7 linked regions of the Homo sapiens genome follow. The protein of the gene in region 6 interacts with the protein of the main gene of each other region in a biochemical or structural test. Each region holds a gene or a part of one and is shown on either strand. Other genes may lie near its edges. The genes, in order: C8orf76, BTF3L4, MAML1, SPTLC2, MPPED2, NOTCH3 and CPNE6.

What was found.
Region 1: the proteins of NOTCH3 (region 6) and C8orf76 form a complex in vitro, tested with the Homo sapiens proteins (one study listed by BioGRID).
Region 2: the proteins of NOTCH3 (region 6) and BTF3L4 form a complex in vitro, tested with the Homo sapiens proteins (one study listed by BioGRID).
Region 3: the proteins of NOTCH3 (region 6) and MAML1 form a complex in vitro, tested with the Homo sapiens proteins (one study listed by BioGRID).
Region 4: the proteins of NOTCH3 (region 6) and SPTLC2 form a complex in vitro, tested with the Homo sapiens proteins (one study listed by BioGRID).
Region 5: the proteins of NOTCH3 (region 6) and MPPED2 form a complex in vitro, tested with the Homo sapiens proteins (one study listed by BioGRID).
Region 7: the proteins of NOTCH3 (region 6) and CPNE6 form a complex in vitro, tested with the Homo sapiens proteins (one study listed by BioGRID).

What each region holds. Positions count from the first base shown.
Region 1 is NC_000008.11:123,234,839-123,238,386, forward strand, and holds part of C8orf76 (uncharacterized protein C8orf76), read right to left. Parts: intron 3,104-3,548; coding exon 2,960-3,103; intron 1-2,959. Other genes in the region: ZHX1-C8orf76 (zinc fingers and homeoboxes protein 1), read right to left, coding at 2,960-3,103.
Region 2 is NC_000001.11:52,062,778-52,066,325, reverse strand, and holds part of BTF3L4 (transcription factor BTF3 homolog 4), read right to left. Parts: intron 1,502-3,548; coding exon 1,388-1,501; intron 1-1,387.
Region 3 is NC_000005.10:179,767,275-179,770,822, reverse strand, and holds part of MAML1 (mastermind-like protein 1), read right to left. Parts: intron 1,974-3,548; coding exon 1,734-1,973; intron 1-1,733. UniProt on the Homo sapiens protein: Acts as a transcriptional coactivator for NOTCH proteins. Has been shown to amplify NOTCH-induced transcription of HES1. Enhances phosphorylation and proteolytic turnover of the NOTCH intracellular domain in the nucleus through interaction with CDK8.
Region 4 is NC_000014.9:77,606,602-77,610,149, reverse strand, and holds part of SPTLC2 (serine palmitoyltransferase 2), read left to right. Parts: intron 1-3,548. UniProt on the Homo sapiens protein: Component of the serine palmitoyltransferase multisubunit enzyme (SPT) that catalyzes the initial and rate-limiting step in sphingolipid biosynthesis by condensing L-serine and activated acyl-CoA (most commonly palmitoyl-CoA) to form long-chain bases.
Region 5 is NC_000011.10:30,409,692-30,412,554, forward strand, and holds the end of MPPED2 (metallophosphoesterase MPPED2), read right to left. Parts: intron 1,896-2,863; coding exon 1,777-1,895; 3' UTR 533-1,776; downstream 1-532. UniProt on the Homo sapiens protein: Displays low metallophosphoesterase activity (in vitro). May play a role in the development of the nervous system.
Region 6 is NC_000019.10:15,160,764-15,163,040, forward strand, and holds part of NOTCH3 (neurogenic locus notch homolog protein 3 precursor), read right to left. Parts: intron 1,800-2,277; coding exon 1,702-1,799; intron 952-1,701; coding exon 1-951. UniProt on the Homo sapiens protein: Functions as a receptor for membrane-bound ligands Jagged1, Jagged2 and Delta1 to regulate cell-fate determination.
Region 7 is NC_000014.9:24,070,359-24,074,457, reverse strand, and holds the start of CPNE6 (copine-6), read right to left. Parts: upstream 2,817-4,099; intron 1,526-2,816; coding exon of another isoform or gene 1,522-1,525; coding exon 1,354-1,521; intron 960-1,353; coding exon 780-959; intron 408-779; coding exon 333-407; intron 168-332; coding exon 93-167; intron 1-92. UniProt on the Homo sapiens protein: Calcium-dependent phospholipid-binding protein that plays a role in calcium-mediated intracellular processes. Binds phospholipid membranes in a calcium-dependent manner. Plays a role in dendrite formation by melanocytes.

The sequences.
Region 1 (3,548 bases), on a different chromosome or scaffold from region 6:
ATAATCCCAGCTACTTGGGTGGCTGAGACAGGTGAATTGCTTGAACCTGGGAGGAGGAGGCTGCAGTGAGCCAAGATCGCACCACTGCACTCCAGCCTGGGCAACAGAGCAAGACTCCATCTCAAAAAGAAAAAAAGAGCTGATGTATATGTGCGCTGGCTAAACCGACCAGACACTAGATGAGCACTGCATGTACACGATATATTGTTTGTCTCCTTAGCATCGAACCCAGAACCAGGAAAATAGTAGGACTGAAATGTTTGTTGAGTGCTGAGTGGATAAATGAAAAGGAGTCACTTACTACCAGAAAGCCATTTTCTTACCACAGTTACCACACAGGAATACCAACCACTATAAGAAAATGTTGTAATTATTTAAGAAATAAGTCCTACTATAAATTTTATCCAAAAATCATGAAAAGAGGTGAATGAATTTCAGCAGAAATTGTGAACAGAAAATGTTCGAATCTTGATGGCCACCCCGGGACTTGCTGTCTATTTTGTTCAATGTTACATACTGCGACAGGTCCCCCTACAGAATGTGAAAAGACAGTAACCACCGTCACAAAAAAACAGATATGGGCCAGAGCTAGTAACAAAAGGCGAGGGTCCTCAGGTAGAGAAGAAATTTTAAAAAACAAAACAAAACACAGCTTACCAGGAAATGAGAATGCCGTGCAGACACGCAAGGTCCGCTGAGATCATGTGTGAAGCCGACAGAAAGGGGCGAACCCCACGAGCCCGCTTTCCACCTGACAGTCCTGCCCAACAGGTTGCCAGGACGCCTGATGCACAGTTCTGAAAGTCCAGGGTTTTCTGACTGGTGTTTCTCCTGCCTAGTAACCATCCCCAGCACCGGAGACCTGGCATCGGCTGATTGGCAACAGATCCTTCTCTGAGCCACCGAAACAGATTCCCTAAGCTAGAAGGAACCAGAGATGACCCAACCCCTGCCAGGAATCCAGCTGCCACTACCTTCAACAATCAAAGAGGAGGAGGAGGAAGCACAACAGTGACGTGCAAGAAACGCCGAGCGAGCAGGACAGTAGTAAAGGCTACAGAAAGGCACCGGAAGGGCCAAGAGCACTGTTAATTTGCGGACTGGGGAAGACTAGAAATGAACACAATGAAATCCCATCAAGTTAACTGCTCATGCAAACGCTTAGGAAGTCGATTTATCTATCTTTCAGCTTAAGCACTAACCCCCAATTAGTAGAGAACAGAAAAGAAAGAACAAAACACAGCTGTTTTCCATGTTCTTAGAACAATTACTGCCAAAGTTTCCTCGAATTGCAAGAGGCTGAGGTCCTATGCAGTGAAGGCTTAAGCAAACAAAGGTTAGGGATTTCTCTTAGTTAATGAGATGGCAGATGTCAGCTCAATTGTGTGCATACGTTAGGCTGATCTGATCGCTGGGCGGTACATCCACAAAGCTCAAAATCGGTGCCACAGTGTCTCCTTAATTTCCTCCGAGGAAGAAAACTAGTCCATTTAGACTAATTCCCATATAAAATTTACACAACAATCAATACAAATAATGCCTTAACCTAGAAACAAAAGCAATAAAATCTAGAACTGGAAAGAACTACCTTTCTTTATCCCTTAAAAAAAAATTCCGCTTTAGAATGTGTGGAAAAAGGCAATAAAATTTTTTTTTAAAGAAAAAGAAGGCCGGGTGCAGTGGCTCACGCCTATAATCCCAGCACTTTGGGAGGCCGAGGCGGGCGGATCACAAGGTCAGTTTGAGACCAGCCTGACCAACATGGTGAAACCTCGTCTCTACTAAAAATACAAAAATTAGCTGGGCGTGGTGGTGCATGCCTGTAATCCTAGCTACTCAGGAGGCTGAGGCAGGAGAATCGTTTGAATCCGGGAGGCGGAGGTTGCGGCAAGCCGGGATCACTCCACTGCACTCCAGCCTGGGTGACAGAGTGAGACTCTGTCTCAAAAAAAAAAAAAAAGAAAGAAAAATTCCCTTTTTCTTCAGCGAGGCTGCCGAGCTCCAGATGCAGAGATGCAGATCTTTGTGAAGACCCTCACAGGCAAGACCATCACCCTTGAGATCGAGCCCAGCAACGCCAAAATTCAGGACAAGGAGGGCATCCCACCTGACCAGCAGCGTCTGATACTTGCGGGCAAACAGCTGGAGGATGGCCGCACTCTCTCAGACTACAACATCCAGAAGGAGTCCACCCTGCACCTGGTGCTGCGCCTGCGAGGTGGCATTACTGAGCCTTCCCTCCGCCAGCTCGCCCAGAAATACAACTACAACAAGATGATCTGCCGCAAGTGCTGTGCCCGCCTGCACCACCCCGTGCTGTCAACTCCCGCAAGAAGCGCGGCCACACCAACAACCTGTACCCCAAGACGAAGGACAAAGAAGGCTCTTCCTTCCCCAAAGAGCGGCGTCCTGCCCAGGCCTCATGGCCCTGGGGCCTCAATAAAGTGTCATAAAGTGTCCCTTTCGTTGACTGGGGAAAAGGAAAAAGAAAAAAAAATTCTGCAAATTCCACTTAAAAATAAAAAGGACTACTAAGTGTGGCTTGGTAATGAGTATTTAGTCATTTTGGGGGGGGGACCTTTTTTGGCTTAGAAAAATACTGTTCATTGTAGAAATTTTGGAGAACAACGTCTAAAAACAATCTAACGAAGAAAACAGATCACTCATAGTCCTTCCACACTGAATGTTACTCCTAACAAGAGAAAAACCTCTGCAAAGGAGATTTTCAGGCAATACAGAATTTTGAGCATGACACAAGAAAAATATTACAAGAAAATGATTATGTCTAGGTTCCAAGTTGTTCATCATAATAAAACTCTCACACCCCTGACAATTTTCTTCTGCTTATCCAAACCCATAGATTTTGCTACTAGCAAGAAGTTTGTTTTGTTTTCAAAAAATACACCATTCGACCACCCTTATAGGAATGTGTGTGAAAATAAGCAATAAAATCACTCACCAAGTTTGCAGCAATCTCCAGCGCCTCCATATGCCTACCCAGGTGAGCCAGACACCGAGCCTGACCTTCCTGGACATCCCTTTTCATGGCAAAATTGGTTGATGACAATTTTTCAGAGATACTGGAATACTCCTGCAGTGCTTTCTGGAAATTATTTGTTAAATAAAGAAATGAAAGGAGGAAAACATAACAGAAAAAAGGATTCAGAATAGGGGTGATTTTTTTTCCTAGGTGGAAAGTAATGTTATAACTGACCAATGAATTACATGAATATTTAAATGAATTAAAGAAGATTTCACTATTCTAGTGATATGGTTTAGCTGTGTCCCCACCCAAATCTCATCTTAAATTGCAGCTCCCATAACCCCCACATGTTGTGGGAGGGACCTGGTGGGAGGTAACTGAATCATGGGGGTGGGTTTTTCCCATGCTATTCTCATGGTAGTTAGTCTCAGGAGATCTGATAGTTTCATAAAAGGCAGTTCCCCTGCACACACTCTCTTTGCCTGCCGCCATGTAAGACGTGACTTTGCTCCTCCTTCACCTTCTGCCATGATTGTGAGGCCTCCCCAGCCATGTAGAACTGTGA
Region 2 (3,548 bases), on a different chromosome or scaffold from region 6:
CAGCTACTCTGGAGACTGAGGCAGAAATTTCTTGAGCCCAGAAGGCAGATGTTGCAGTGAGCAGAGATCACACCACTGCACTCTAGCCTGGGTGACAGAGTGAGATTCTGTCTTAAAAAACAAAAAAACAAATGGAATCATCAGGCAGAGGTGCATCTAGGTGGTAACATCACAAGTAGTTGTTGTTATTTATTAAGTATCTTCTGGAATAACATTAATCTTTGGTCTCATATTTGAGAAAAATAGTGTCATCAAAATACAATAAACTGACATACAATTTTTTTTTTTGAGACGGATGCTCACTCTGTCACCCAGGCTGGAGTGCAATGGCACAATCTTGGCTCACCGTAACCTCCGCCTCCTGGGTTCAAGTGATTCTTTTGCCTTAGCCTCCCGAGTAGCTGGGATTACAGGCATGTGCCACCACAGCTAGCTAATTTTTGTATTTTTAGTAGAGACAGGGTTTCACCATGTTGGCCAGGCTGCTCTTGAACTCCTGACCTCAGATGATCTGCCTGCCTAGGCCTCTCAAAGTGCTGAGATTACAGGCGTGAGCCACTGCACCCGGCTGACTAATACATTTTAAACAATTTTTGAAACAGTTTTAATAAGAAATCTAACCCATGTAAAGCTACTGCTAAAGCCTTTTGGCTGAGGTAGTAACTAATGAGGCTCTGTAAAATATACAGGTGCATTAGGGTAAAAAAGTCTACCTCTATTGAGCCATGAGTCCAAAATCTTAAATAATAAAAAAAAGTCTGGCCGGGCGCGGTGGTTCACACCTGTAATCCCAGCACTTTGGGAGGCCGAGGCAGGCGGATCATCTGAGGTCAGGAGTTTGGGACCAGCCTGGCCAGCATGGTGAAACCCCGTCTCTACTAAAAACACAAAAATCAGCCGGGCATGGTGGCACGCACCTGTAGTCCCAGCTACTTGGGAGGCTGAGGCAGGAGAACCGTCTGAACCCGGGAGGCAGAGGTTGCAGTGAGCCAAGATCGTGCCATTGCATTCCAGCTAGGGTGACAGAGTGAGACTCCATCTCAAAAAAAAAAAAAAAAGGTCTATCTCATCTGAGGAAATGTTGGGGTTTATTTCTACATTATTAGAGACATATTTTATATTAATATTCAAGAACACTTACATAATTTTGCCATATACGCAAATATCTTGAGCTTGAAAAGTATGATGAAAATCCTTAACTGTCTACTAAAATTATTTTTTTGACCATCATTTAATTTCATACAAAAATCAAAGTGCCACAGTCCTTCAAAGACATCAGAGTGACAATATCAAAGATTTTTCTAAGCTGATATTTTACATCTGAAAGGTCCAGACAATTATTTGTGCATGTACCCACACAATTTAACAACTTGCAAAGTGATCATACCTCTTCAATACCAGCTATATTATTCACAGCCAGTTTTTTTAGAGAACTCTGAAGCTTTTTGTCATCAGCTGTGGCTGTTCTATGTACCACCTTCTTCTTTCTGCGAGCTGTACCCTGAAAAATAACCAAACAGAAGCAGAAGTGTTAGCATGCCTGGCATCTGGCAACTGCAATCACATCTTACGTATCACAATAATCTAAAACCCACATTAAAAAATGGACAAAATAATAATGATTAATGTTATAAGACTTCTCAGAGGTTGTGATTGTCAGCCTAACGCAGATTTCTAAAGGTTGGTTCTAGCCAGTTCCTTTTTTTTCCTTATCAGCTTTTTCAGGTTGAATTATTCTTATCTAATATCCAGCCTTTGTCATTTCAACACAAGATACTGTTTGCTAATAAAACATAATTTATAACTTCAAGACAATTTAAATACTTTATAACAATTTTAAAACATTATCTTTTCTTATAGTAACTACCACCCCCTGCCAGTAGTCTAAAGATATTCTGAAATTTGGGGAATTAGGACATAACTGAAAATTAATGTCTACATTACAGTAGGAGGAAAAAAATCAATAAATATATAAACAAATCAGATAATTTCAAATGGGATTAAGTACTATTAAGAAAAAAGCAAAACTAGAGCACAGCAAGAATGACTAAGTAGGGGCAAAGCAATACTTTATTAGAAGGTCCAGGAAAGCCCCCTCTGAAGAGGTAACATATGAGTTGAGACCCATAACTAGGGCAAGAATGATCAAAGCAGAATGAAACAAGGTTGAACTTGTCCTTTCTAGAAGAGAGAAAATGGGCCAGTATGGCTAGAGCAGAGTGAATAATGGGAACGGAAGAGGAATATGAAATCAGAAAGATAGGCAAGGACCAGATTATGTAGCCTAGAATGCCATGGGCAGGAGCTAGATTTTATTGATTGCAATGGGAAGCCATTGAAAGGTTTTAAGCATGGGAGTGACTTGATCTGATTACTTATGACTGAAGTTGCTATGTAGAAAATGGATTATAAAGAGACCAGTCAGGAGGCTCCTGTAGCCGTCCTGGCCAGAGATGAGGGATATGGCAGTGAAGATGGTGAGGGGTCAGATTCTCACAAGAGACCACATGACTTTGCTGATGGATTACACGTGGGATATGAGAAAAAGAGGACATTTGGATGATGCTTAGAATCTTGGCCTGAGCAAACAGGTTGAAAATTATACTAGTTACTGAGAAAGAAAAAGTTCATTTCTAAATTGATACTGTGAAACTCTAAATACATTTTTCCATTGAAATACTATTTAAAATAATGGATTCCTGGATCAGTTTATTAAGTCTTGAGGGTTAAATCTTTCTAAAACTGGTAGGAGTAAGGAGAAAGGAATAGTGGTTTCAATCTCTGGGTAGCTCCTATAGTAGTACTCAGGGAATCAGCCTTATAGAGGTAAGGTAGGGGCTTCAGTCTCAGCAATTCCGGTGGGAGTGGAGGAGAGATCTGACAGCAGAGGATGCCTTGAAATCTAGTTGCTGAAGGACTGACTATTTACATAGGCACTCATTTGTGAAGCATTCCTGACTCAGGGATAGCTCAACTGCTTGGTGCTTGTTCAACTCGAATGATCCTCAGGCACCTCAAATTCAATATGTCTTAAAGCTTATCAGTCCACCAATCTATTCTTATTTCCTAACTTTTGTAGCTGGTGGTACCACCATATACTCAAGTCTCTAAAATCATGAATCTGAGGGTTATCCTAGATTCTTCTGCATGCCCTTTACCCCCCATATCCCATCAGTCACTAAATCGTGTCAATTCCAACTCCTAAATTTGTATCCCATATAATAGAGGTCCCCAACCCCCAGGCCACTGACCAGTACCAGTCTGTGACCTGTTAGGAACACGGCAGCACAGCAGAAGGTGGGGTAGGGGGCATGAGCGAGCATTACTGCTTGGGCTCCACAGCCAGTCAGATCAGCGGCAGCATTAGATTCTCATAGGAGGGCGAACCGTTGTGAGCTGCGTATGCGAGGAAACTAGGATGCGCACTCCTCATGAGAATCTAACTAATGCCTGATGATCTAAGGTGGAACAGTTTTATCCCAAAACCATCATCCTCCCATCCGTGGAAAAACTGTCTTCCACGAAACCAGTCCCTGGTGCCAAAAAGA
Region 3 (3,548 bases), on a different chromosome or scaffold from region 6:
GAAATCAGCACCCTCATACACCGCTGGTGGGAATGTAAAATGAGACAGCCTGTGGGAAACAGTCTGACAGTTCCTCCAAAGGTTAAACATAAAAATTACCATGTGATCCAGCAATTCCACTCCCAGGTATCTACCCAAGAAAAATGAAAACAGATGTCTATATGAAAACTTGTACATGAATGTTCATAGCAGCAATACTCATTAACAGCCCAAACAAGAAACCCAAATGTTCATGAACAGACGAATGAATAAAATGTAACATGTCCATACAATGGAATATTATTATCAAGAGGAATCAATTGCTGTTACCTAGCACATGATTGAAAATGACATAACATAAATATAAAATGTCCAGAACAGACAATTTTTTTTTTTTGAGATGGAGTCTTGCTCTGTCGCCCAGGCTGGAGTGCAGTGGCGCGATCTCTGCTCACTGCAAGCTCCCCTCCCAGGTTCACGCCATTCTCCTGCCTCGGCCTCCCGAGTAGCTGGGACTACAGGCGCCCGTCACCACACTTGGCTAATTTTTTGTATTTTTAGTAGAGACGGGGTTTCACTGTGTTAGCCAGGATGGTCTTGATCTCCTGACCTCGTGATCCGCCCACCTCGGCCTCCCAAAGTGCTGGGATTATAGGAGTGAGCCACTGCGCCCAGCCCAGAGCAGACAATTATAGAGACAGAAAGTAGATCAGGAGCTGGAGAGGCAGGGTGGATGGGAGAATGGCTGCTCATGGGTATGGGATTTGTTTTAGGGTAATGAAAATGTTCTAAAATGGATTGTGGTAATGGTTGCACAACTCTGTGATATACTAAAAATGACTAAATTGTTCACTTACGTGGGTGAAGTGTATGCTGTGTGAGTTACATCACAATAAAGCTGCTTTTCTTAAAGGCAGAACTGAGGCAGGGATTGTCCTCAATGAACCTCACTGTCTGGAGCCAGTTCTTATGTCTTAAAGATGTAATTTAAGGCCAGGCGTGGTGGCTCACGCCTGTAATCTCAGCACTTTGGGAGGCCGAGATGAGTGGATCACTTGAGGTCAGGAGCTCAAGACCAGCCTGGCCAACGTGGTGAAACCCCATCTCTACTAAAAACACAAAAATTAGCCAGGCATGGTGGTTCTTGCCTGTAGTCCCAGCTACTCGGGAGGCTGAGGCAGGAGAATTGCATGAACCCATGAGGTGGAGGCTGCAGTGAGCCAAGATCGCACCACTGCAGTCCAGCCTGGGTGACAGCAAGACTCTGTCTCCAAAAAAAAAAAAGAACTCTCACTTGTAACCCTTAGTGCCTGCACACTACACTTGCTAACCAAGCGAGTGAACTGTGTTTCCCTCAGGGATGACTTCACTTCCCTCTTCACGTTCTGGCTTATAACAGGCTCTGTAGTGGCAGCAAAGCTGACTCCATAGTGGAATGACAGACACGTGAGCTCAGTGGCTTGGAAGCTGCTGACCTGAAACATAGGAAAATGTCCCTTCCACAAACAGTTTTAGCCCCCGAGTCTGCCTTGAGTACTCTCCACTAAGTGACACGAAGCAGCTTCTGACAAGACTACCCCTGTCTGAGAAATGCCACATTCCTGGAAAGATGTTTTTAAAAGGCAAAGCACTCTAACAACAGGCACGCAAGTCTGCGCAAATCCACACGCACAAGCAGAAGGTGTGACTGTAGCAGTGACGCAGGGTGCAGGCAAAGGTGGGAAGCGGTGGTTTCCTTCCACTTTTCTTTTTACCTGTTCCGCGAGAAGGTGCTGTTGCCTCTGAAGGAACTGCTGTTGCTGTAAATGCTTTTGCTGCTGCTCCCTTTGTTTCTGTTGGTCCAAAAGCAACTGATGCTGCTTCATTACAGCGGCCTGTTGCTGGCTGCTGAGATAGGGGGAGCTGTTGTGGGAGCTGGCCACGGACACGGCAGGCGGCTGGGTCCCAACACTGGTAGCCTGGGCTTGCACAGGGACACTGGAAGGGTTCTGCTCCTGTCAACACAGATAGGGGACTGTGAAGTCTCTAAGCTCTGATCAGACCAAATAAGCTCCATCCAGTGAATTCAAGGTTCACTCTCTTGAAGCCAAGTCTCTGCTTCCCTTCTGACCTCGAATAACAACCATCCCACAGGGCTGGAGCACAGACCAAAAGTGATGACATCTGAGCATACAGGCGCCTAGCAACGAACAATTACTCCATAGGTGTTAGTTTTACTCCCAGTGATTCACCAGTGACAAAGGTATGGTTTTACGTTAAGCATATGTAAGCTTTCATATTTGCACACAATAGTTCCAGTAAGCAATCGAGGCTTAGAAATGCTCACTTATCAGGACATCTGAGTGCAGAGCGGGCCAATAGGGGAAGAATACTTTTTGTTTTTTTTCAGACGGAGTTTCGCTCTTGTTGCCCAGGCTGGAGTGCAATGGCACGATCTTGGCTCACCGCAACCTCTGCCTCCCGAATTCAAGCGATTCCCCTGCCTCAGCCTCCTGAGTAGCTGGGATTAGAGGCATGTGCCACCACACCTGGCTAATTTTGTATTTTTAGTAGAGATGGGGGTTTCTCCATGTTGGTCACGCTGGTCTCGAACTCCCGACCTCAGGTGCTCCACCCACCTCGGCCTCTCAAAGTGCTGGGATTACAGGCATGAGCCACTGCACCCGGCCTAGGGGAAGAACACTTTGAAGGGGGCTTTGGTCAATGGAGACCACTCTGTCCCATGTGCATAAACCTTGGATTTCGGGCTATCCCTGAACGACCCGAAACTGTACATCTGCGCAAGCATTTTACTGGAAGAGACTGCTTAGCTTTTGTCAAATACCCATCCTCAAAAAATACTGAGAATCAATGAGAACTTTAACAGATATTCTCTGTCAATATATAGACCACAAGTGAGAGTCATGTCAAAGGCCACCACAATATTATCCCGTCATTACTGACACTTAGAAGAAAAGGGGAACTTAGCAGAAGATAGGCAAAAAGCAATCATTATTTAAACCAGTTCAAATTGTTGAGCTCCTTTCTAGTTATTCATTCTAAGATTCTGGTATAATTTCTTCACTCTAATCACCAGAAGCTTAAGAACTACTGAGAGTGCTTCGTAAGTTGCAAAGTGCTACCCAGATGGCAAGCACCCTCACTGTGTGCAGCTGAGCCTCTCTTCAGGGGGTGCTGAACGGCGTGAGACATCTTACTGGCTGAAGTAAGTGGAATTATCAGCACTGGGAGATGCTTAAATGGCTTACAGTTTTTGGCTATTAGAAATAACCACACAATGAATATCTTGGATATAACTTTTTCTTTTATTTTGGATTATTTCTTTAGATCAACTTGTCGGGTATATAGTGTGTCAATGCATATGAACATTTTACAGCATGTGAAAAATACATAATGTCAAATGACTTCCCAAAAGCAGTGAGCTCATTTACACACTCTCATCAATACAGGAGTGTGTCTATTTCCTCATGATATTACCGGCACTGGGCTTTTTAATTTGCAAAATTTTAGCATGTATTACAAATTCACGTTCACTGCAGGCTTATCTGCACTAGCGGAAAACAGGAAAC
Region 4 (3,548 bases), on a different chromosome or scaffold from region 6:
ACAAAACAAAACCTCAGTTAGATACCATTTCACACCACTAGGATTGCTAAAATAATAAACCAGGTATTAAGTGTTCATGAGGATATAGAGAAATTAGAATCCTGATACATTGCTGGTGGGATTATAAAATGATGCAGCCACTTTAGGAAACAGTTAAACATAGAGTTAGCATGTGGCCCAGTAATTCTACTCCCAAGAAAAATGAAACATATGTTCCTGCAGAAACTTGTATATTAATTATAATAGCAGCATTGTTGATTGATTGATTGATTGATTCAGGGTGTTACTGTTACCCAGGCTGGCAGGACATGGCTCACCGCAGCCTCCACCTCCTGGGCTCAATCAATCCTCCCACCTCAGCCTCCCAAGTATCTGGGACTGCAGGCATATGCCACCATGAGTGGCAAAATTTTTTTTTTTTTGAGACAGAGTCTCACTCCGTTGCCCAGGCTGGGGTGCAGTGTGGCTCACTGCAACCTCCACCCCACTGGTTCAAGCAGTTCTCCTGCCTCCGCCTTCCGAGTAGCTGGGACTACAGGCACATGCCACCACGCCCAGCTAATTTTTTATATTTTTAGTAGAGATGGGGTTTCACCATGTTGGTCAGGCTGGTCTCAGACTCCTGACCTAAGTGATCCATCCGCTTCGGACTTCCAAAGTGCTGGAATTACAGGCGTGAACCACTGTGTCTAGCCCCACGTTATTTATAATAGCCAAAAAGTAGAAACAATCCAAATGTCTATCAACTGATGAGTAGATAAAATATGGTATATCCATATAAAAGGATATTATTCAGCAATACTACTGAAGGAATGCAGTACTAATACATGCAGGAGAATACTACATTGTTTATGGCCATGTGTTTATATAGTGAAAGTATTTAAAAATACAGGGGAATGATAAACACCAAATTCCCAATTCTTCTGAGGAGGAAAGGAAATATAGCATTTCCCCAGGACAGACTTCTTAAAAGGATTGGAGAACTACTTAAACATGTCAGATCTTGACACTGTCCTGATGGCCTCCTGTCACTAATAACAGAATACAAAATGGGGTTTACAAGGCCCACCATGAACTTTCCCATCCCTCTCTGACTTCATATCCTGCCAGGTCACTGCTTTCTAGCCAATCCGGGCTTTCTGATGTTCCCCAAACACATTGCCATCAAGCACCCCTCCCTGGGGCCTTATTATTATTATTATTATTATTATTATTATTATTATTATTATTTTGAGATGGAGCCTCAATCTGTCACCCAGGCTGGAGTGCAGTGATGTGATCTCGGCTCACTGCAACCTCCGCCTCCAAGTTCAAATGATTCTCCTGTCTCAGCCTCCCAAAGTGCTGGAATTACAGGCGTGACCTACCACGCCTGGGGTCCCTGGGGCTTTAGCCTTTACAGTTACCTCAGCCTGGAAAGCTTTTTCACAGAGTTCTCTTCCCTACTCCAAGTCCATCTGCTTACACCTTACCTCCACCCTGTTTAAAATGCTCTTTTTCCACGATTTTATTCTGATTGTAGCAGTGTGATCTGATACAGTATATCTATTTGCTTATCTGTTGTCTGCCTCTCTCACAGGAGTGTATTTCTAGTGCTCAGATCATGCCTAGCTCATAGCAGGGACTCAATAAGTATTGAATGAATAACTTTAATGTTTTATTTAATGGAAAAAAGATCTAAAGCATATAAGCTAAATCTTAAGTTTTGATAAAGCTAGATGTTGAATACAGTTTTATTTCTATTTTTTTGATGATAATTACTGTGTCATATTTCATACATACTCTGCTGGTTGACAAAAACTAGCTCCCTAAAATAATGTTACAGACATAAGTAAGAAATGGATTGTGGTGACACATAAGCTGTTAAAGAAACCCGTAGCCTAATTTATAGTGTATCAGGTTTGCAAGTGGTTTAAAACAATAGCGGTTTACTGAATGTTCTTACTAGCGTGAGGGGAGAGCTTGTGAGAAGTAGGAAGAGGCCAGAGAAGGTCCTGGGGTCTGGCACACTCTGATATGCTTCATCACCTCTCCCTAAGCTCTCCCTACAGGGCAGTGGGGCCAGTGGTGACTTTTGCGGCACCCTCTCCATTGTCTTACCAAGGGCTTCAGCTGTGAGACGCCGGTTGGTGCTACAAGGAAGGGGAAACGTGTCAGCTCTTTCCTCTGCTCTTTTCTCACATTGATTTCAAATGCCAAGAAGCTGGGCTGAGAAACCGGGCTTGTGATCCTGGTTGTACTGCAGTCCACCATGTGCTGGAGAGCTCTGCAGGTTGTGCTAAAGGGTAGTGTCTTTATTGCCTCCTGTATAAGCTTGACTTTTACATAGGCAAGCAGGTTATTTCCAGGACAACTAAATTAGTTGGTGCGAAACCTCATTTCCTAGAAACCCATTTTCTTAGTAGAGGAAACCCATATAACCATTTGTCTCCATGTAAGTGTAGCTAATAACATGAATAACAAAAATAGCTAATTATTTAAATAGCAAAAATAAGTATGGAAGATGAATTTGCAGTAAAATTCTAATATTAAGCCACTGATTATTTTAAAACAATCAGATTAAGTTGTAGTACCTCTGAAATAATTAAAGGAAAATTTGATTCTTAGAAAATCTCAATTCATTGGAAAGCCATGGAATTAATAAAATAAAAAAAGAAAATCTCAGGCAATATAAACTAAGGAATGGCAAATGGAAAATGTATTGATTGGTGGAAAAGTAATTGCGGTTTTTGACATTGAAAGTAATTACTTTTGCCATTACTTTTAATGGCGGAAACCATTTAATGGCAATTACTTTTGCACCAACCTATAAATAATTGGACTCTAGTTCCAACTTTGATATTTAGCTTTCCCATGACTGTTGACAAATTGCTTAATCTACTTTCCTTGATTTTGTCAGTCAAATGAGGAGGAAGAGACAGCTTGAGAAACATTTGTAAGAGAAATGCTTATTACTTTGTATGTGTTTTTCGTCTTACATATTAAATATAAATTCCTTTAGGTGATATTCTTTAAAATGATTTCCTTACTTCCTTTTATATTTACATCCATTTTCTCTTAAAAAAACAAACAAACAAAATACTGCACAATTCTTGAAGACAAGGATTACCTCTTACCTCTTATTTGTTTCATGAAATATAGAGTACAATTTTTTTTTTTTTTGAGATGGGTCTTGTTCTATCACCCAGGCTGGAGTGCAGTGGCGCCATCATGGCTCACTGCAGCTTCAACCTTCTGGGCTCAGGAGATCCTCCTATCTCAGCCTCCCCAGTAGCTGGGACTACATTCATGCACCACCACATCCGGCTAACTTTTGAAAATGTTGTGTAGAGATAGGGTTTCACTATGTTGTCCAGGCTGGTTTTAAACTCCTGGGTCCAAGCAATCCTCCCGCCTTGGCCTCCCAAAGTGTTGGGATTACAGGCGTGAGCTCCTGTGCCCAGCCTAGAGTACAGTTCTTGACATATAGATAGAAATTAAGTATTTGTAGAATGAGTGGAAAAAAAAATGAAATGATTATGTTGATTTTGAGTTTCTCGGTGGAATAG
Region 5 (2,863 bases), on a different chromosome or scaffold from region 6:
ATCCAAGATTATGCTGTTTTGCTTCAGTGGTTCTTCTGGGTGATGTCTTTTTTATTTTCTCTGGTTTTCGCCACCCTTCTGCTATCCCCTCTTGGTTGCCACAGCATTTTGTGGGTGGGCATCATTACAAAAGTGAGGAGGAGATGGTGACTGCTCTTGGGGAAAATGAGAATGTGCAGTGATTACTCTGTCATCAACGGTTTCCCCAAACTCACTATCACAAACTTGCCCAAAATAAATCCACAGCCTTAACTCCAGTCTCTCTGTTCCTGTAGAAATTACAACAGCCAAAGATGAAACCTAAGGCAAGACAGATGACAGCATGATGGAAGGAAAGAGTACACTGAGTGCCTTATCGATCTATCTGCCAGCCTGTGAATGGTGGGTAATAAAAATTTATTGAAAATTAGGGAAAAAAATCACTTATTCTAATTCTTCTGAAAGGCATTACTGATGTTGCATATGAATAAATCCCTCCTTCCCCAGGACGAAACTACCATCCTCCACCATCCAACCCTCTAAACAGCACGAATTTAAAAATCTTGCAATTTTATTTGCATATAAAGGCCGCTAGATATAGAATATCACAATAAATTTAAAGAAACAACTGCTTTCCTAAATTTCATTAACAAAGTAACATAAAATAGAATAAAGCTCAACAGCATTTACAATGGGAAAACAGAAATGACTATTAGCGACAATATTTTGTGCTAGCGAAGATTGCATCGACACACAGTGCAAAATGGGAGAGGGGAGAGGAAGTAAGAAGACAACTTGGGGTATTTAAATAGAAAGGACAACTAAGCCTTATTTTAGTTAGCTTCCATTGCATCCATTTAAGTCTATACATGCCTGTAACTGTACCTAGATTTAACTCAAGCTCTTTAAGACCTTGAGCTCTGAGAGAATGTGTCAGTTCCTTCCGACTTCTGATGTGTTGCTATACAGCATCCCTTTGCAGTTGTACTGTCCTTGACAATAATAAACTCCTAACGTAGTCATAATACACAAAAAATACTTATATATATAAACCCATATTGAAAAGGAGTCTGCATGTTCATTTTTTTAACCGTATGAAATACCTGCTCTTGACAGATTCCATTTCTGTATTTTTAAAGCTGAAATAATTTAAAAGAAACAAACAAACAATGAGACCTTGTATAACCACAATAGGAATCTCACTAGTTAAACCATCCTTTAAATGACAGCCATTTTCTTCTCAATGCAGCTTTCTTTATAGTGAGAGTATGAAAAGAAGTCTTTTCCATGCCTACTTCTGTTGAGAAGATTGCTATAAATTGGGACCACATCTGCAAAAAAGAAGCATTACCAAGAAAACAACAACAACAAAACATTGAAAATTAAAATATTTCAAACAATACTCTTAAACAGTTGTGCAAATCTGTGTTGGTTTTTAAAACACTGCCTGTTTCTTATTTTTTTTTCTTTCAGCTTAAAGCATATTAAAATAAGACTTTTATCACTTTTTAAAAGAAAGCTTGGCTGTCCTTTGGCGAACACTAACAATTTACAATGGCATGGCCTTTGAGAAAACAGAAGTCATTTTACAAATTCACAATGTTCCTCTGATTTCAAATGGATGCCCCATTTAAAATAAAATAAAATAAGAAGCACAACCTCTAGCATCATTTGTGTTCCAACAATTTACAAAAAGAACTCACAGGGTTTGTAAATAAGTAAGAGAATGTAAGTTTATAATTAGAAAAATGGCAGTTTATAGACCTTCCCTCACATTCCAATAGGGCATTTAGAGCTTCAGGAACCCTGTGGGTTTGGAAGGTCAAATATAATTGGAGGGTTGGTCGGTTGAAAGCTGACTGTACACGTCGAGGCATTGATGTACGTTGTGTAACCGTCGGTCATGATGCCATAACCTGTGGGGAGAGCGTGTCACATTTACTGTAATATATACAAATGAGAGTGATGGAATGTAGGGCTGTCAGGCAAGGAAAACAAAAAATTTTTGTCAGTGGGCAGTGAGATGAAATTCAGTTGAGCCTCCTCAGATATAATGACTTTCAGAAGCTACTGCCCAATTTTACTCTATTTTCTTTAAATGGTAGAATCTTCTCCTTCAACTAAGAGCAATTTTTTTTTCTTTATTTAAATGCTAAACTTGTTGAAGAAGGGCTGTGATTTCTTTACTAGGGAGAATAAAGAAAAACTTTTTTCCTCCTTTTAAAATAGGATTTTCATTTCAAAGCCTTGTGTTAACTATTGAGTTCTAGGGAATAAAATGAGTAATATAAGGATTACTCCTCAGGGGCAAACACAACTAAATTCCAAGTGGGATATGGGGCAGGTGAGGGGGGAAAGGATACTGCATTGAGAGTTAAGAAATGTAGACACTCAATTTACTTATTTATGAAATAATCTCTTAACTGCCTTTACGAAAGTCAACCATATATGATTTTTGAATTGTGTGGCTTTAATACTAAGTTCCATTTCATTCAAAAGTGTCAGCTAATCACATGTCGAAGTGATGTGTAGAAACATCACCCTAGGTCACTGTTTCCTAAGCTTACCTGGATACTAGATCAAGCAAAAACACTTCCCATATGCAATATAAACCTTTTGTGATTTATTGGGAGAAAGTTGTTTCCCTAGGTCTTTGGTATATATGTTCCTTTGATAATTTTCAATATGATAAAATGTTTAGCATGTTTGCAAGTTGGCACATTTCCCTGAATACCTTATATTTGCCTTATAGCCTCTTCAACTAAGATTCTATGTTGGTATCAGGCTCTTATCGCATATAAAAACATAGCTGTGAAAAAAATAAAATTACCAAGATATAGAGAAGTAACTGAAAAGGCTTTTTTCCACATTGGCTAAAATTTCT
Region 6 (2,277 bases):
AGGCAGTGCCCCAGTGGTGGTGGCCATGGCCCCAGTGGCAGTGGCTGGGCTAGGCGTGGATTCGGACCAGTCTGAGAGGGAGGGAGGTGAGGGGCTGGCCCAGTGCTCAGGGGATTCGGGGGATGGGGTCAGGTAAGGGTGCTCACTGGGAACCCGCAGGAAGCGGGCCTTTGGGGGGCTGCTGTGTGCCCCAGCCGCCGGGTACTCCTCGCCATGTCCTGGGACTGCCAGGTAAGGCGGGGGCCGCTCCTGCGGGGAGACGGGGGTCCCTGGGTTGAGCAGCTGGGGTCCCGGCGCCAGTGGCAGCAGGAACGAGGGGCCTGGAGGGGCAGGTGGGGGCAGCCGGGCCCAATCGAGGGGCACAGCCACAGGGTTCAGCAGGCCCAGGCTGAGTACACATCCTCCAGGGGGCTGGCGCCCTAGACCCGCCCGGCCTGGGCCACCAAGCTGTGCCAGAGACACTGCAGTGGCAGTGGCAGCTGCATAGGGCCCCTCAAGGGGGAAGCCACCAGGGGAAGCAGGGGGCCCACCGAAAGGCCGCGGGGAGTCCAGCGAGTCCACGGGCGACAGCGTGACCGAGCTGTCAGCCAGGGGGCCCGGGCAGGCCAGCGTCAGCTTCTTGCCCCGCCCCCGGGGCCCCTGCGGCCCCAGCCCCGCCTTCCCGGGGGGCCTCCTGCTCTTCTTGGACCCCGACTGTGCCGCTTTGAGGCCAGGGAGGAAGGCCCCTGGAGGACAGAGCAGAGGCCCCAGGCCGTGGGGACCGGGGGGGCTGCGGGGCCCACTGGGTTGATCCAGCAAGCGCACGATGTCCTGGTGCAGTCTCTCCTGGGCTACGTCCCGCGGCAGCCTGTCCAGGTGGTCGGTGATCTCACGGTTGGCAAAGTGGTCCAACAGCAGCTTGGCAGCCTCATAGCTGCCCTCGCGGGCGGCCAGGAATAGGGGGGTCTCCTCCTGGGGGGCCAGAACCCACAGAGGTCAGCGAAACCCCAGCTAACAGTAGCAAAGTCTTCCAGCCTCTTGGGGGAGCCCGAGAGCTATGAGTTTGTACACTGGAGCTTGACAGACCTGGGTTAAATCCCGGCTGTGCTGGGGGAGCCTGGACAAGTTCTTTCCTCTAAACCACATTCATCCATCACCTACTAAGTGCCAGAGGTCAAGGCCAGGACTAGGGTGAGTTAAGCGAGGTACTCACCTTAGGCATAACTTTTTTTTTCTTGTCTTTTTTTTTTTTTTTTTTTGACAGAGTCTCACTGTGTCGCCCAGGCTGGAGTGCAGTGGCGCCATTTCAGTTCACTGCAACCTCAGCCTTCCGGGTTCAAGCGATTCTCCTGCCTCAGCCTCCCGAGCAGCTGGGACTACAGGTGTGCACCACTACGCCCAGCTAATTTTTGTATTTTTAATAGAGACAGGGTTTTACTACGTTGGCCAGGCTGGTCTCAAACTCCTGAACTCAAGTAATCCACCCATCTCGACCTCCCAAAGTGCTGGGATTATAGGCATGAACCACCACACCCAGCCATTAGGCACAAAATTTAAGGGGCCCCCAAAAACTTTAGTCACCAAAGTAAATTATATTTTAATCCAATGTTTGGGGTTTTATTTTGTTTTGTTTTTTGAGAGAGTCTCACTCTGTTGCCCAGGCTGGATTGCAATGGCACTGTGCCACTGCTGACACCCAGTGGACCAAGGGCTGGGGCTCACCTTGCTATCCTGCATGTCCTTATTGGCTCCATTTTTGAGCAGGGCCAAAGTGGCTTCCACGTTGTTCACAGCCGCAGCCCAGTGTAAGGCTGATTTCCCTGGAGGATGAAGGGGAGAGAGGTCAGGACCAGGCACCTGTCCTGGGGCCCCCATGTCAGGGAGGCAGAAATTGTCTAGAATGTGGCCTAGGGGTAGAGGAGGCAGGCCTGCCGTGAATATCCAAGTACTTGTGTCTGGATCCATGTGTGTGCAAATCTGCAAAATGACTCTGTGCAATGGGGAAGCACTTTGTGTCTGTGTGTGTGTGTTTGTGTGTGTGTGTGTGTGTGCGTGCATGTGCATGACTGTTTATACACAGGGGGTGCTGTGTGGACCTCCTTCAGTTGAACCTAGGGTTGTGACATCCAATACAGTAGTCAGTCACATGTGGTTTTTATTTATCCATTTATTTATTTTTGAGGTAGTGTCTTGTTCTGTCACCCAGGCTGGAGTCCATTGGCACAATCTCAGTTCACTGCAACCTCTACCTGCTGGGCTCAGGCGATTTTCCTGCCTCAGCCTCCCTAGTAGCTGGGA
Region 7 (4,099 bases), on a different chromosome or scaffold from region 6:
GAAGAGAGCAGGCCTGGGCTCCTGGGATCTGTCTTGAGTGGGAGGCCTAGGAGTGACAGGGGAGTTGGGGGCCTGGACTCTGGGGTTCCAACCTTGTTGTCCAGCTTGTAGGCTCTGAAGGTGAGTTGCACATAGTCGTTTGTGCCTGATACCTCCTCGGCCACGATCTGCAAGGGGGATACAAGTGGCAGGACTCCCCTAACCTTACCACAAGGGCCACCCCATCCCCTTTCCCTTAGGTGGGGGTGGTCCTGGGCATGATGTCACCATAGGTGTCCATGCAGGGGCATTGAATACCTGGACCAAGGGTGAGTACAGGTGATCTTGCCTACCGTGATGGTGGACTTGCCCGCAGTCTTCCCATTCTTCAGCAATAATGGCTTAGTGACCTTGGTTTGTGACACAATCTGGGGATGGAGGTGGAGGGAGACCCAGCTGTGACATCCCCATCTGCCTTGGCCACGTACAAGGGATGGAATAATAAATGCTCTGAGTGTCTGCAAGGGTTGGCACTTTGAGTTGGGCTAGGGTTGGGCTCAATTTTTACAATAGTCTGAAGAGGGAAGCACTCTGACCACTCCTCCATTTTTTAGATAGGAAAACTAAGACTCAGAGAGGTTAAGTATCTTTCCTGAGGCTGCACAGCTAGTGAATGGCAGAGATGGGAGCCAAGGCTGGGTTGAACTAGCTCTAGAGCTCATGTTTTCTCTCTTTTTGGCTTCCAGAGGCAAAGCTGATGGAGGTAGGGTAGGGTAGCCGGGGAGGCCGGGAATGCAGACCTGGCCCAAGGTGCACTCCGTAGAGCCGAGGAAGGTATCATTTCGGGGGCTGGTGGCTCCGTCCTCGGCATCGAACACGTGGAACTGCAGGGGCTGCTTCTCCTCAAAAAAATACTCAAGGGCCAGCACCCGGGAGAAGACAGGGCTGGAACAGGAGCGAAGCACCTCTGTGCGCTCTACCTGTGGTAGTGGTTGAAGGGAGGCGAGGGCTGTCTGGGAACCGAGGATACTTTTCCCTGTCCTGGACTGCCCTAGTCATGCCAGCTCTTCTTGGGCCCCCACGTCCCCAGCAACCAGCTCTTCTCTTCCTAAGCTGATCCCTGAGCTTGGGGTGCTGCCTGCCCACTGGACTCTCAGTCCTCCGGGCTATCATGAGGCCTTTGGGAGCAACCCCACTGCCTCTGGGTCAATCTCAGGACCCTCTGGGACACCATCTCCAGGGTACCCAAGCGGCCTCGAGAAGGCGCCGCAGAGTCCACACATTTCCCTGCAAGGCTTTCACTGCTCCCACCCAGCCTCCCTCTTTCCCAAGCTTAACCCAGGTTAGTTAAGGAGAAACCTGAGCTGCTCTCACCTCCACCCACTGCTCATCAGAGTAGAGCTTGAGCAGCACGCAGGGGTGGGGTTTGGTGAGTGTGTCCCGGTCCAGGAGGCCATGGCAGGACACCCGCAGCTCCACCCGAGAGGCCCCCAGCGTCATGGTTGGGGGCTCAGGCACCCATCCCATCTCAGGGTCCGACATGTCACTGTGGGGACAGAGCAGGTGGCCTGGACTCTGGAAAGGGAACACCTGCCAGCAGAGGGGTCTATCCTCTAGGGTCCCTGGGCCCCACCCCTTAACCTCCTTCCCTAGACCCTGGGGCCTCACGGACCTCCTGCTTCCTCAGCTTCACCAGAGTTCTGAGCAGGGGAGGGCAGAGGACCTGAGCCTCCCACTCCTGCTCAGAAGCCCTGTGCTGCTGGCCTAGGTATGCGTGGATGGGGCTGGAGAGGGCTGAAGGATTGGGGTGGGGATGTTCCTGGCAGTCTTGGCTCCTAGGCCATCGATTGATCTACACTTTCTGCCGCCTCAGCACCTTCTGCTATTTCCCGACTGGTGTTGTGCCAGCGCTGCACTCAGTCTTGGCACGAGGGAGCTAAACTAGGGCAAGGGGGTGGGGCAGGGGGTGGAGAGGCCTCTGGAGTTCTGAAGAGGATGGGTCTCAGAAGTGGAGTCTGCAGTGGGCAGGAGACAGGTTGGAAAGTCCCCTGCTGGGCTATCCCTATCCACTCCCTACCCCCATTCCCCTTCTGGCTAGCTGATGGAAAAGGAGTGGTGGTGGGCTGGGAGGCAGGACCAGGGCTCTGCTGAAAGCTCCTTCAGGCTCCTGGCAGGAGCTCTAACTGTGACAAGCCTCACATCCCTCCCCACCTCCCCTGTTTTCACACTTCTTGGCAGCACTGGCACCGTCTCTTAGCGACAGGATTTTTGGGGAGTCGTGGCTCCCTCCATGCTGCCCGTGGGATGCACGCATGCCACCTTCCCCCAGCAGTGGTACCAAGCCTCGGGCTGAAGCAGGCAGGGGTATGCCGGCCAGAGTTCATGGCCGGTCAGTCCATCTATCTGTGTCTGTACAGATCTCAGGGTGAGGCTGTCTGATCCCATGTCATGCTTCCCCGAGTGAGTGTGCATTGGTGTGTCTGAGTGCCCCACCCTCCGTGTCTGTCCCCCCATGTCGTGTGTCCGTTTCCAGGAGGGTGTGACAGTTCCTGTACCTCCCTCAGAAGTGGGACCTTTCTCTGGCTGGGTATCTACCTCCCCACAGTGTGTGCCTTTCTGGATATGTGAGGGAGGGTCTGGGCTGGGGGAGGGGGGTCTCTGCCTTCCAGCCACAAGTCTCCCAGTTCTTGGGGGTCCCCGAGATAGGCAGGGGCTTGTGGTGGTGAAGGGATTGGGCAGGGCTGGGATCTCTCTGCGGGCTCCAGGAGATGTTGTTATGGAGACTGGGCCAAGCTGGGCTGGGCTGGGGCTGGGCTGGGGAGGAAGGGTGGGCTCACCTGGGCTCTCGGTCGGGGGCTCCTCTCTCCGGCTCTCTGGCCCTGGCCCTGACTCCCTTGCTGCTCCAGCCGCTGGCGCCGGCTCCAGCTCCGGCTCTGCTGCTATTTATGGGGCCTGGATGGGGAGGGGTGGGGGGGGGCGCAGCACCAGCTCCCCCCGCGTGGATGGATTGGGAGGGAGAAGAGGGAAGGGGCAGGGCCACAGCCTGGGAGGGAGCCACAGAACCGGGGGAGGAGGGCAGGCTGGGGGTGGCTTAGAGGCAGGACCCCCACAGACACAGTGACACACATCTTCCCCTTCACACTACACCCACACCCAGAATCGCAGAGATGCGCACATTGCAGTGGCATGCACATACACATTCAAACAGAGAAATGATGGCGACACATGCACCCACGACTCACAGGCTCACACATATCTTGACACACACAGGCGCCAGTACATAAACTCACTGTGACACCACGACAGTTACAGCCCCCGGCGGATACACATTGGGAAACATACCCCTTCTCACATCACTTTCAACATTGTTACACTAGCTAAGGATATCTGCAGTCACATATACAGGAACACTGGGCTGTCCTTGTCACACATGTACTCACTCAAACTAACCCGGAATACAGCAGGATGTGATCTTCCCGTGCTCCTTAAAAGCCATCACATACCTTGCTGAACGTCATAGCTTTGAGAATGATGTCCAGTTCCCTAGCCACCATTTTATAAGGAGACACAGGAAATGGACATAATTGCTTAAGGACACCCAACCTCATATCCTGGTCACATGAGGGCATCTGCTGAAGGACTGACTCCCAAGGCTTCTTCCCGGTGCCACAATGTACCCAACACCCCCCAAGATTCAACCCATATGGCCTTACCCTTGTGGGAGGGGCTGTGCCATGCACAGATCTTAAGGAAACAAAACAAGTAATTCCTGGTGAAATCAGTAAGTAAGGGAAGTAAGCAGTTGCCTGGGGAGCTGCAAACCACACATGAAGACATTTGGGCACATTGTGGTCTGCGATGAGTACGCAAGAGCATTTACCTTCGCCCTCCATCCCCTTAAGCTGCTCATGTATTAATATAGCAGCCATTTATTGAGCATCTCCTGGGTGTCAGGCACTGTGCCAGGTGCTGGGGCTACACAGGTGATTAAGACACAGCCTCTGCCCCTGGGGGAGGCAGATGTATATGGAACAGAAAGACAGGCAGACAGAGAGAGGATAAGCCAATACGCATACGCAATGAAGCGTGACAGGTGCAATGTTATGGACCTGCTCAGGAT